Regions from separate parts of the Homo sapiens genome. Here region 2 is linked to region 1. The links come from fine-mapping of genetic effects on gene expression. A gene starts in region 1. The other region holds a variant in brackets. All regions are shown on one strand. Distances are between the middles of the regions. Region 1 holds the start of HDAC9 (histone deacetylase 9). Region 2 has its middle 87 kb from the start of MIR1302-6.

Region 1 (5,390 bases):
GAGACTGGATAATATAAATGCTAGACCTATATGGTTAGTTATTAATTACCTGTATTTCCTTAAGCTACTGTCTTTAAAGCCTGACTCCAATAGTGAGTCCTTTTGTAATCAAGCCTCCTTCGTTTCCTCATGAGTGAATTTCAATGATTGTTTTTCTTAATATAAGAAGTTCTTGTTCTGATCTCACCACAAAAAAAATGGTAACTAGCTGAGATGATAGATTTGTAGCTTGATTATGGTAATTATTTCACAAGGTATAGGTGTATCAAATCATCAAATTGTACACCTGAAATATAAAGAATCTTGATTTGTCAAATATACCGCAATTTAAAAAATGTTCTTTACATAAATGTTTTGTAGAATAAAAAAAAAAAAAGTTCTTCAAAAGAAATCTCAAATCTCCAAATGGAAACAGGTAAAAGTGGAGCTCCCCTGGTTCCACGGAGAACCTTTTTTGAGGAAACTTAGGCAACTCGCAGGTACCTTATGTCATGAGACAGAGTTTGAAAACTACAATTGACTATCTCTAAATTTCCTCCCAGGTCTAAAATGTGATGATAGTTACTACTTCAGTACATCATCCTTAAGGAAAATTATTAGGTCCACACTGTTTCTATCCTTTGAATTTTACACATAAATTTTGTAATCAAAAGTTTATTTGTAATATCAGATGGAATCAGATAATTGCTTTTTGTTTTTTCCACTGACAGGAACATAAGATTTTGTTGTGTAGCTTAAGTCAAACGCAGTTTGGAATATATATTTTTTAAAAATTGTAACTTACATATCCAAATACAATTTTTCAAGAAGTAGAGTATTCAGTAGAAATTAATCTGTGAAAGAAGAGGAATTCAGCAGTGGCCTATTTGATGAATGATTTAACGTGCTTATTTCTTCCCTTTCATCAAAACTCTGTGTCCCCTTGTTTGCCCCCTCTGACTTCATACTCTGGAGTTGACCAAGATCCCTCTTCCATCGGATTGTTCTGGGAATTTTGAAATAATCTGCTTTTTCCTCTCTTTCCCCTGTTGCTTCTGATGCCTTAGAATTACATTTTCCTCGCTGATTTAGTTTAGAAAAGAGAAAAGAGCTTCCATGACTAGTAGATTATCACTTTTGGGTTTGCTCTTGGAAGTGACAAGATGCTAGGATCCCTCTTTGGAATGTAAAATTTATCTCTTATATAGAAAGGATATAAATGTAGCACCAGAGACTATAAAACTCTGATACTATCTACTGTACTGTATAGCTGAACGCCACAATGTGTCTGGTAATCTATTGACTATCATAAATGCTATTTCTACAGAAAAGTTAGGAGGTCCATATTTCGGGCAACCAATGTATAGCTGAATGCAGAACAGTCATAGTTGGGTACTAACCATATATATGATTTATCCATCAACAGGTGCATATGCTCAGAAATTCTGTATCCATAAGAAATCAGACTACTTTCTTTTCCTTTTGCAAGTAAATTGAATTTAGCCTGAGAGGCTGAGGGGAAATTTTCACATATAAGCCACGGTTTTGTGTTTTGTGTTTTGTTTTGTTTATAGATATAGTACTAACTGGATGGATGCGATAAAATTCATAGGTGGTACTAAGATACAATAGGATTTGTGAAATGGACAATTGTCTTGCATAAATAGCAAGTAAAAAATCAAGCCTGTCCTTCATAAAAATTTTATTCTGGGGTGTGCTTGTTTTCCAAAAGTACCTCTGCTAAATCTCCTGTTAGTCCTGAAACTAGAAGGCAGAAAAGCTTCTAGTGCTACAGCCAACTGCAGTGTAGCCTGAGAAACAGGCAACAAAAATAGAACACCAGGATTGCTGTGCGTGGGTGAGGCAGAAACCACATTATGAGCAAAAGCTTCCAGTATTATTTTAGAACCAATACAGAGCTCTGTACTTCTCTCCTCTCTCTTCCAAAAACACATACTACAAAAATAAAATGAAATGAAATGTATGTGCATTTGCCCTCTTAGAATTATGATTCTTAATTTTTTTTCTTGCCTTCCTTTCTTTGGAAGCGAATCGCCAGTATGGAAACACAGTGTGTAAAGCAAGCTTCGAGAGAGGAAAGAGTTAATTGGTTTTAAGGCCCTGCGATAGAGAATTATGGTTGGAAAGATAGAGGCTGGACAGCTGGGTTTGCTGGGGTATTTTTAAATGCATTAATGCAGGCTCCAATCACTCGGCCATGCTTGACCTATTTTTGGCTCAGGCCGACCATTGTTCTATTTCTGTGCCTGTGGGCCATGCTGTTGTTGATTCATATGCAAATGGATTATCACTCGCTTTAGCCAACTTGAGCTGAGAGAGACTGAGAAAGGGGGAAGAGAGGCACAGACACAGATAGGAGAAGGGCACCGGCTGGAGCCACTTGCAGGACTGAGGGTTTTTGCAACAAAACCCTAGCAGCCTGAAGAACTCTAAGCCAGGTTTAATTGGTTTCTTTTTCTCGTGGGTAGACTTAATAATTTTCTACGTATTCTGACAAAGAAATAACCCCGAAGCACGTTCCTATTTCCCACCTGCTTGTAGTTTCCGGGATAACCTAAACTCCAGAGAGCTATAGCATCCACTCTGTCCTTTCTGCTTTGCACACAGGTTGGTAACATGGGAAAAGTGTCCAGGTCTTTTTAAAAGTGGATGCCCATTTGAGCAGAAAGGAAATCATTGTCGAAGTTGATCCTCTGCTGCTTCTCCTCAGGGAGGAGGGAGAACCAGCGAGGGTAGCTCCTGGGGCCGGTGCACTGAGCAGTGATGAATGTTTCATGTAGCTGAAGTAAGAGTGACTGGAATATGCTGCAGACAATTTACGAGAGTGACTCCTGTTTTTCCTCAGATGGGGTGGCTGGACGAGAGCAGCTCTTGGCTCAGCAAAGAATGCACAGTATGATCAGCTCAGGTAAGATCCTCTTTCATAACTGAGACGTTTTAGGTTTGAAAGGGGGCTGGCTTGGGAAATGCAGCTAAGAAAAGCACCTCTCTTAAGGAAATTGCTGCTTTTTCGTGTTGATGTTGCTATTTTCTTGGTGCGTCTGTAGGGTTTAACTTAGATCCCTTCCATTACTGTTTCTGTGCATATTCAGTCTGCTTAGGGACAGCAGCTTCTGAATGAAATTGCAAACTATTGCTTCTGATGAAAGATGAGACTGAGATAAGTAAAATGTAGTTGGGGGTGTTTTGCCTTTACTATGCAACTAGAAAAAGGAGCTGTGTACTGATTGTAAGCCTATTCTAATAGGACTTTAAAAATCAGGTAAGTTCATATTGGGGCTTCAGTTTAAACTGCAGCCCCGCTAGCCTGACGATTTTATATTTACTCTGTGCCTACAGAAGCACATCTATTTATAGACCTACCTTCTAAAATGTGTTTGCCACAGAGTTATAAAGGTAGTTTTCTTTTTTCCATTATGTGGCTTTTTCTCATCAGCCCCAAATGAAACTGTTTAGGATGAAATAAAATTGTTATTAGCAGATGCTTATTTTAATTTTCTTCAAAAACATGTGGGAAGTCTAGCATTGTCAGGCAGATGTGATGGCATAACACACATGTAAATGTGTTAAAAGCAGGTGCAGCGTTTTAAAGGATAATAGGAACAGATTCTAATTTCTAGTTTCTCAAGGAGATGAGCTGGTGGGAGATTGAGCTTGTCAGCCTTGTCAATTTATACTTACTAAATGAACATACTCTCCAGGCAGTATCACTTAACGTGTAATTATTGCCTTTCATATTTATTTCCTATGGCTATTTCCTAAAGCTTTGGGAACTCTTTGTTTCTGTCCTCTTCTGAATGTTTCAACCTAAAATTGGCTTAAAGTTCTCACTTAGATCCCACTTCCCATGTGGGCTTAATCGTAATTATAGATCACCGCCTAGATTTCCATGATAAGAATGCCACATAAAGCAGTGTTTACTTTGTAGAGCTAGGTGTGAAAGAAATATTCCACAGGTTGGCATGATGTCTGTTTTGGTGTTAATACACCTTCCCATATGGGGATCTATGTTTAAAGCTAGTTTTCTTTAAACCTTGGTTAGTTATGTTAATTTTAAGATCCTTCTGTTGACCCAATCTTTTCATGGAATCAGAATAAAATATCAATTTTGCATAATTTGGTATTTATACACTTAAGTGACAGGAATTATGTTAATGAATAGTGCCTGCTTAACAAAAGCAAACCTACCAGAATTTCAGTACAGTTTATTCTTATAGCTGCAAAGCTGACAAGGGCTCCGGGAGGGTTTAACAGGTATGTCTCTAATGGGACTGGTCATTTAACTTAGCATTTTATTTTTTAAAATATGGATGAACCCTTTGAAAATAACTATTTTAGAAATCTTTTCAGCACTATGCTTTATCCTTTTAGTCCTCACTTCTGTGTTACAAGTTTGATATTTTTTTTCATATGGTAGAAACATACATGCCTTCCAAGTAGCAAGTGTCTGCTGAAGCTAAGGCTGGCTACAGGTGTTTGCAAGCTTTGCTTTTTTCTCCACATCTTTGATAATCACATACAGCTTTACACCCATTTCAGTAGAGATTGTCATTTTCCTAGCATTTAATGGTTTGTGTACAAAGCAACAAGATTTTCAGACAGGGAAGTGCTTCAGGCTGTCCATGCTTTGGCCAGTTCTACAAGAAGCAACATTTAAGCAGCAGCTAGCTATTAAATGAAAAGTGATGTAGGTTAACATCAACTCCCAAAACCTGTCTGGTATAAATACATAATCACTAAGTTCTATTTATTTTTAAAATGTGAAGCATAAAAACAATTACACCCTTCCTGCCATGCCATATATTTCATATATGTTCTTAAATTTAATTCACCTAGTCTTTATTGTATACTTCCTGTGAGGCACTGGCTCTCAAAGTTGGACTCACCAGAAGCACTTTACAAAATATGATACCTAGATTCCACTCCCAGAATGCCTGGTTTAATTGGTATGGGGAACAGCCTGGGGATTGAGGTTTTTAAAATCTCCCCACCTTAACCTTCAGCAAACTGAGATTCACTGCTGTAGGGCTAGGGAACAGATGGTGATGCTGGTGAACCACTATCAGTAGGGTTTGTCCTTTGAGCTAACTGCTAAATTAGGGGTATGTTTGTCTTAATTTAGCTACAAATCTTGTTCAGCTCCCTTTTGGACCAGTGGTCTGGACGTGATTCATAGGCTTAGAAGCAGAGTCTTTGGATTTGAAAGAGAGAAAGGATGCCTGGCAGCAGTGCAAAGGAGTGGAGAGAGCACTGTTCTAGGAGTCAGACACTCTGTATTCTAGCATGAGCTCCACTGCTAGCCGATTGTGTACTGATTTTTTTACTCATCTTCAAACTGAAGAATAATGATGTCCTCCTGCTTGCCTCTTAGCATTCTTGTGAGGTTCAGA
Region 2 (5,390 bases), 280 kb before region 1:
GTTTCTTTGGGGAGAGGCTTATAAAAATTAGAATGTCCAAGTCTTCATAGCTATCTAAATGTTTTCTGCATGTTTCTGTCCAGCACCTATGTCTGACTTCATCCCAATTTGATGATTAGGATGATGATAAACAGGATGATGAATAATACAACTATGGAGATTTAAATTAGAAGAAAAAATCTTCTTTATCTTTTTTTATTGTAAGATTTATTAATACAAATCTGTATTGTTATTCAGTTCTAGAATGTTCTAATATGCTTCTTCCATCCAAAGTTATGATTACTTCTTTACCTCATATAATATTATTACATTTTCTTACAATAAAATACATTTTTAAAATTCACTATTAACCCTGTCTGTGATGAGACAGCATAATCTTGTGGTTAATATTAGCTCAGGCTCTGTAGCCAGAAAATACGGGTGTGAATTCTTGTTGCGTCATCAAAGATACAGATGTGAGTCCTGGCTGTATCATTCACTGACTGTTTACATTTAATATGTTATTTAGCCTTCAAAACCTTTGTTTACTCATCTGTAAAATGGGATAATAATTGTACCAGCCTCCTAGGATAGGTAAGATGTTGCAGTGAAGTTTCTTGTTACGATGTATTTCCTTGATTATTTCATAAGACAGAGGAGGCATCTTTTCTGTGTTCCTCCCTTGAGATACTAAAATGGCCAGGGAGCAGGTAAGTTCCAAAGATTAGGTTTCAGACTGTCATATACAACTTGTAGTCCATCTGTGCAGCTGGAGACTAAACCAAAGTGTCACATAAACCTTTTCCTAATCAAAGTGGTTGTTCATTTATTAATGTAAATGCCCTGTGCCTTGGATGTGTGAGTCCTAAAAATACACTTCCAGGGATAAAAATAGATTTCTGGGAGTTCTGAGATGCTGCTTAATCAGAACCAGCTGCAAGCTGTCTAGAAAACGCAAGTTATATGAGCCAGATGGCTTTTGCCCTTTTTGCTTTAGACAGCATGTAATTTGGATAACTACAGCTACAGTAATACATTTTGCCAGTCACAGTGTTTGATAAACATGTTTGTTGAGAACAGCCACTTCCAATTAGAGACCCAGTAAAATGTTAATTTATTTTAATAAATTTTCCCTCTAGGGCAAGACAAAGAATACTTTTGACAGGTTACAGAAATATCTGTTCATGGAACAGAGTACTGTTCAAAAGTTATTGTATGCCAGTGATTAATTTTTCAATTTGGCATTTAGAGAATGATGAGCAGTATTCATGACCTCCCCCTCCATTTTTCTCCTTACAACCTCATGTATATATAAGAGACCAGGATTTTTCATATTTGAAATTATGTTGCTTTACGTGTAGAAAGATGGTTTAGCTAATTTTTAACTTTCTTCTACCCATGTCTAATTACTATAAACTCTGATAATAGTTACTGAATTATTGCTTGCTTACAGATGCTTATTAATGTGGTAGTTCTTGGGATTTTTCTTTTATGATCGTATTCTTTGAGAAGAAATTTTCTCTGTTAGTCTTATGTAGCCATGACTGATTTTCATCAGCTGAGGACTGCAAACGTAGTCACTGATATTGGCTGAATTCTAATTTTATTCAGCTCCTATTCAGACAAAATAGTAAAGCTAAATGTGTAAGCTATTCACACTGTAAGACCTAAACTCAGATACAGCCTACTTTTAGGAGATGTGAAACTATCAATTCTTCCATTTTCACTGGTGGCACCACTTCTTGGAAAAGCGTATTTAAGCCCTGGTTTCCCATTACAGGAATTGAAATATTCTGTGCTTTATTTCTTGAGACATGTCTACCAGGCATCATGTAACAGACTGTGAAGTACCTTTGAAGGATCTCTTGAGTCATAATTTTTCCATAATTCCAGTCCTTCCAGCTTTGTAAGTTTAGTAATCACCCAGCAGTTGTTTTTTTCCTTCCCCAGTTTAAGAGGAGAGGGTATTTCATTTCCAGGATAAGTGATATTAGAACATAAACATCATTATAATAGTAGCTACAGGTTTATTTACTCTTACCAGGAACTATGCTAATCACTTTATACATTATTGCATTTAAGCCTCACTACAACATAGTATTATAAGGTATATATTTTTATTCTGTTTTGCAGATAAGGATGTCACTATTAATATAACATTTTTATATTAATAGAGTATAATTGTTCTAGAATTATCACTAGAATGATGATTATTCAACATCATACAGAAAGTATTACAGCCAGAATTTGAAGCTACTCTTGTATTAATGGTGTGTCTGGCTCAGGATCTTTAATTCCACCCATTAAGCTATGAAAATTGGCATTTGACCTAACTAGGGCTGCTTTTTCAGAGGTAAATGCATGCCTCTGGCCATCTTCATATACTTCAAGGAATTTACAGTATTGCTTCTTAGCATTTATTTTAAGCTCAGATTGTATGTGAAAGAGTCTGATCTCTCTCATCCCACCTTGTTAGATGAATTATAACTGATGTGCTTTAAAAATAATTCATACTGCTGGGGAAAAAATCTCACTTTGATGCTTTTCCAGTATATAGTTAAGAATTACACTGATGGGTAGTAATTGAAGAAATTGGTAAGCACTTGTGTGATATGAAACAGCATAGGAAACTTATATATAATATATGATAGCCATTATATATAAGCTTATATATAATGTGTATAACATTTACAAAAGCAAAATAATACCTTTATGTTTTTATTTAACAAAGTGAGATAAATTCATTAGTGAATGCAGCAGGGCATACCTGCAAATTCTGTCATAGGTAGCAGGAAATAAAGCAAAGCATTGTTTATAAAAAGACCTCTTTGTTATGGTTCTGTCCACTCAAAGCAAACTGATGGGGGCATGGAAAAGATCTTATTACTTTTGACTATTTTGGAAGAGCATACTGTTGGTATTATTTTCATTTGCAGCTATAAAATGGTACTTCTTGAAAGATACCATAAAATAATAGAACAGTTTATACTTAAGTACTATGGTATGATAATGGGCTTATGCTGTTTGTTAGCAAAGAGTTGGTGTTATTTGTTGTTTCTTGGAAATGAAAGGGAGAAACAGATAATATTCCTTTCTAATAAATGGATTATTCTATTCTACCCTATTCTATT[A/G]GACAATTTTATATCCAAACAATTACTGAACTCTATTTTTCATATTTCACAGAGTTGTACGCAAGATCTAGATTTGAATATGAAATCTGATACCTCCGTGGGCCAGTCGAAAAAAGCATTTTGATATCATTAGATGAGAGACATTATAGACATATTAGTTCTAGAGAAAGTCCCGGTCCTTTCTTTATGTCAAGAGATTTGTGTTAGAAAGAGCCAACAAGGCCTATGCACTCAATTAATATACATCAGTTTTCTGTTAGCATGTAAGGTCCTATAGTTGGTGTTCAAGAAAAGAACATGATACATGAAAAGTGATCTTTGCCAAATGTATCCATGTTTATGCTAATGTGGGTAAATTGTTCCTCTTTTACCATGTGAAGGATTGGTAGCTTAATAGTTTGCTTTGCTTAAATGATTTTATGTGGCAGTGTTGAGGATCTGCAGAAGTGACTGTGTCCTTGCCCTCAAAGAACTTTTGGCATTTGGCACCAAAAGGGGGCACTGCTCTCTTGTGACATAAAATGTAGTCCCCGAATAGTGGGGCTTTTGAAGGTTAGTGACTCCAAAGGAAATAGTAGATGAAAGGAAAACGTATTTACTTCATCTCATGGGGGTCTTTCTTGCCTTGGTCTTCCTGAAGAAAAGATAAGCATTGGGCTGAAAATGTTTGTTATATACCCTTGGGCACCATTGGCATATTCCAAGCTGTTTTTGTCAATCATATAAATACATATTTAGACAATTTCTGAAACATTTCTCATAAAGAAAGAAGTCATTCATCTGGTATATCATATTCATATGCATGATGGCTTTCTAGAGTTGTGTCATTTCTTCACTATGGCTTCTCTCGTCTCGCACCTCTTCAGAAGGCACCCTTCCTTTCTTTTTTCAGTAAATACCACAATTTTATTTTTAGGTGTATGCAGCATGAAATGTATGTGTGTATGTGTGTGCCTGCGTGTCTGTGTGTGTGTGTGTGTGTGTGTGAGAGAGAGAGAGAGAGAGACAGAGAGAGTTTGAGAGATAGAACAGAGAGATTGATTAATTGGTTGATTGATTAGTTGGTTAGTTGGAGCTTTTCCCAGAAAGTTTTCCAACTGTTCTTATTGGCATATTTGAAAGTTTAACAAAATCTCATTAAAGTTCATGGATTTCACTGAAATCTCTTATTTTTATTAGATAATCAGTAATATTATAAGTATACATAATCTGCCATCCCAATATTTTCAAATTTTAGTTCTTTTTCTATCGTATTGGTAAGAATGTTACAGTTTCTTCCTAATGTTGGTGATAGGCATCTGTACATCTGGTTTTGTTGGAAACAACTCTGCTAAATGTTTAATAAGGTGCTCATTGTAAGTTAAAGATAGGGAATCTTTATTATATTATAGAACTACCCTGGCCTATGCACATGTATTGAGATGACTGCATGTTATTTAGCATGCAGGGATAGGTTCTGTTTTAACATATTTTGACCTATTGATGTCGTAACTTCATTAGTAGATTACCTAGTATTAAACCATTCTGGGATTTCTGATGTAAACACAATTGGACATGTTTTATTATTATTTAATATGCTGTTGGGTTTGGAATGTATTTCATCTAGCATTTTTGCCTCTATATTTGTGATACTGAATGATAGTTTTCTGTTTTGTCAGCTGGTTTTCAGGTTTTAGTGTCAGGGTTACTAGGCCCATCACTTATGATTATACAAGTTGTACACTGCCACCTATAATATTGTCATTTGCATAGTTATTATGACAGTTTTACAAAGGAGGACAGTAAAGTATCTTGAGGAAGGGACTTTTTTTTAAAACCGTATTGACTTACCATATCAACTAGCAGAATGTAACATTCTAAAACAGATTTTTAAAAAATTCCATATTTTTCCATTCCTTCAATGTTTAAAAGAATCCACGCAAAAAATCAGTCAGGTTTATTTGACAATAGTTGTTTACTTAAATTTCTTCTAGAACTGTTCATCTCTTTAGGGTTTATATATTCTACTCAGCTGGGATGATCTTTTAATTTTATTGAACTATTAAAATTCATTCTTTAACAACCAACTATACATAATATTCTTTATAATTCTTTTATTCTTTTCTGTGTTTTTCATCCCCCTTTTGTTACTTTACTATTTTATCTTTTTCTTGAATATTAAGATTTGCCTTTTGTTTTCCTCTTTTTTCCTTCTCCAAATACTTTTGGCTTTATTTACTGGAATGTAATATTTTAGTATTTGAAATTAACAACTGTTTTTATCTTTATTATTTTTTCCTC

Evidence for each region. PIP is the estimated chance that this variant, and not a neighbour inherited with it, causes the effect.
Region 2: its variant is the best candidate, but not a certain one, in a credible set for the expression of HDAC9 in whole blood (TOPMed, PIP 0.66).

The regions. Positions count from the first base shown.
Region 1 is chr7:18,493,417-18,498,806 of GRCh38, forward strand. It overlaps HDAC9 (histone deacetylase 9), which reads left to right and starts at 2,333. Exons shown (of 26, transcript NM_178425.4): 1 at 2,333-2,607; 2 at 2,846-2,908. The coding sequence starts at 2,887. RefSeq lists an enhancer at 2,062-2,111.
Region 2 is chr7:18,212,034-18,217,423 of GRCh38, forward strand. It overlaps a transcript of HDAC9 not described here. Among named protein-coding and RNA genes, the nearest start is that of MIR1302-6, 87 kb to the left of the region's middle. The variant A/G (reference allele first, on the strand shown) is at 3,111.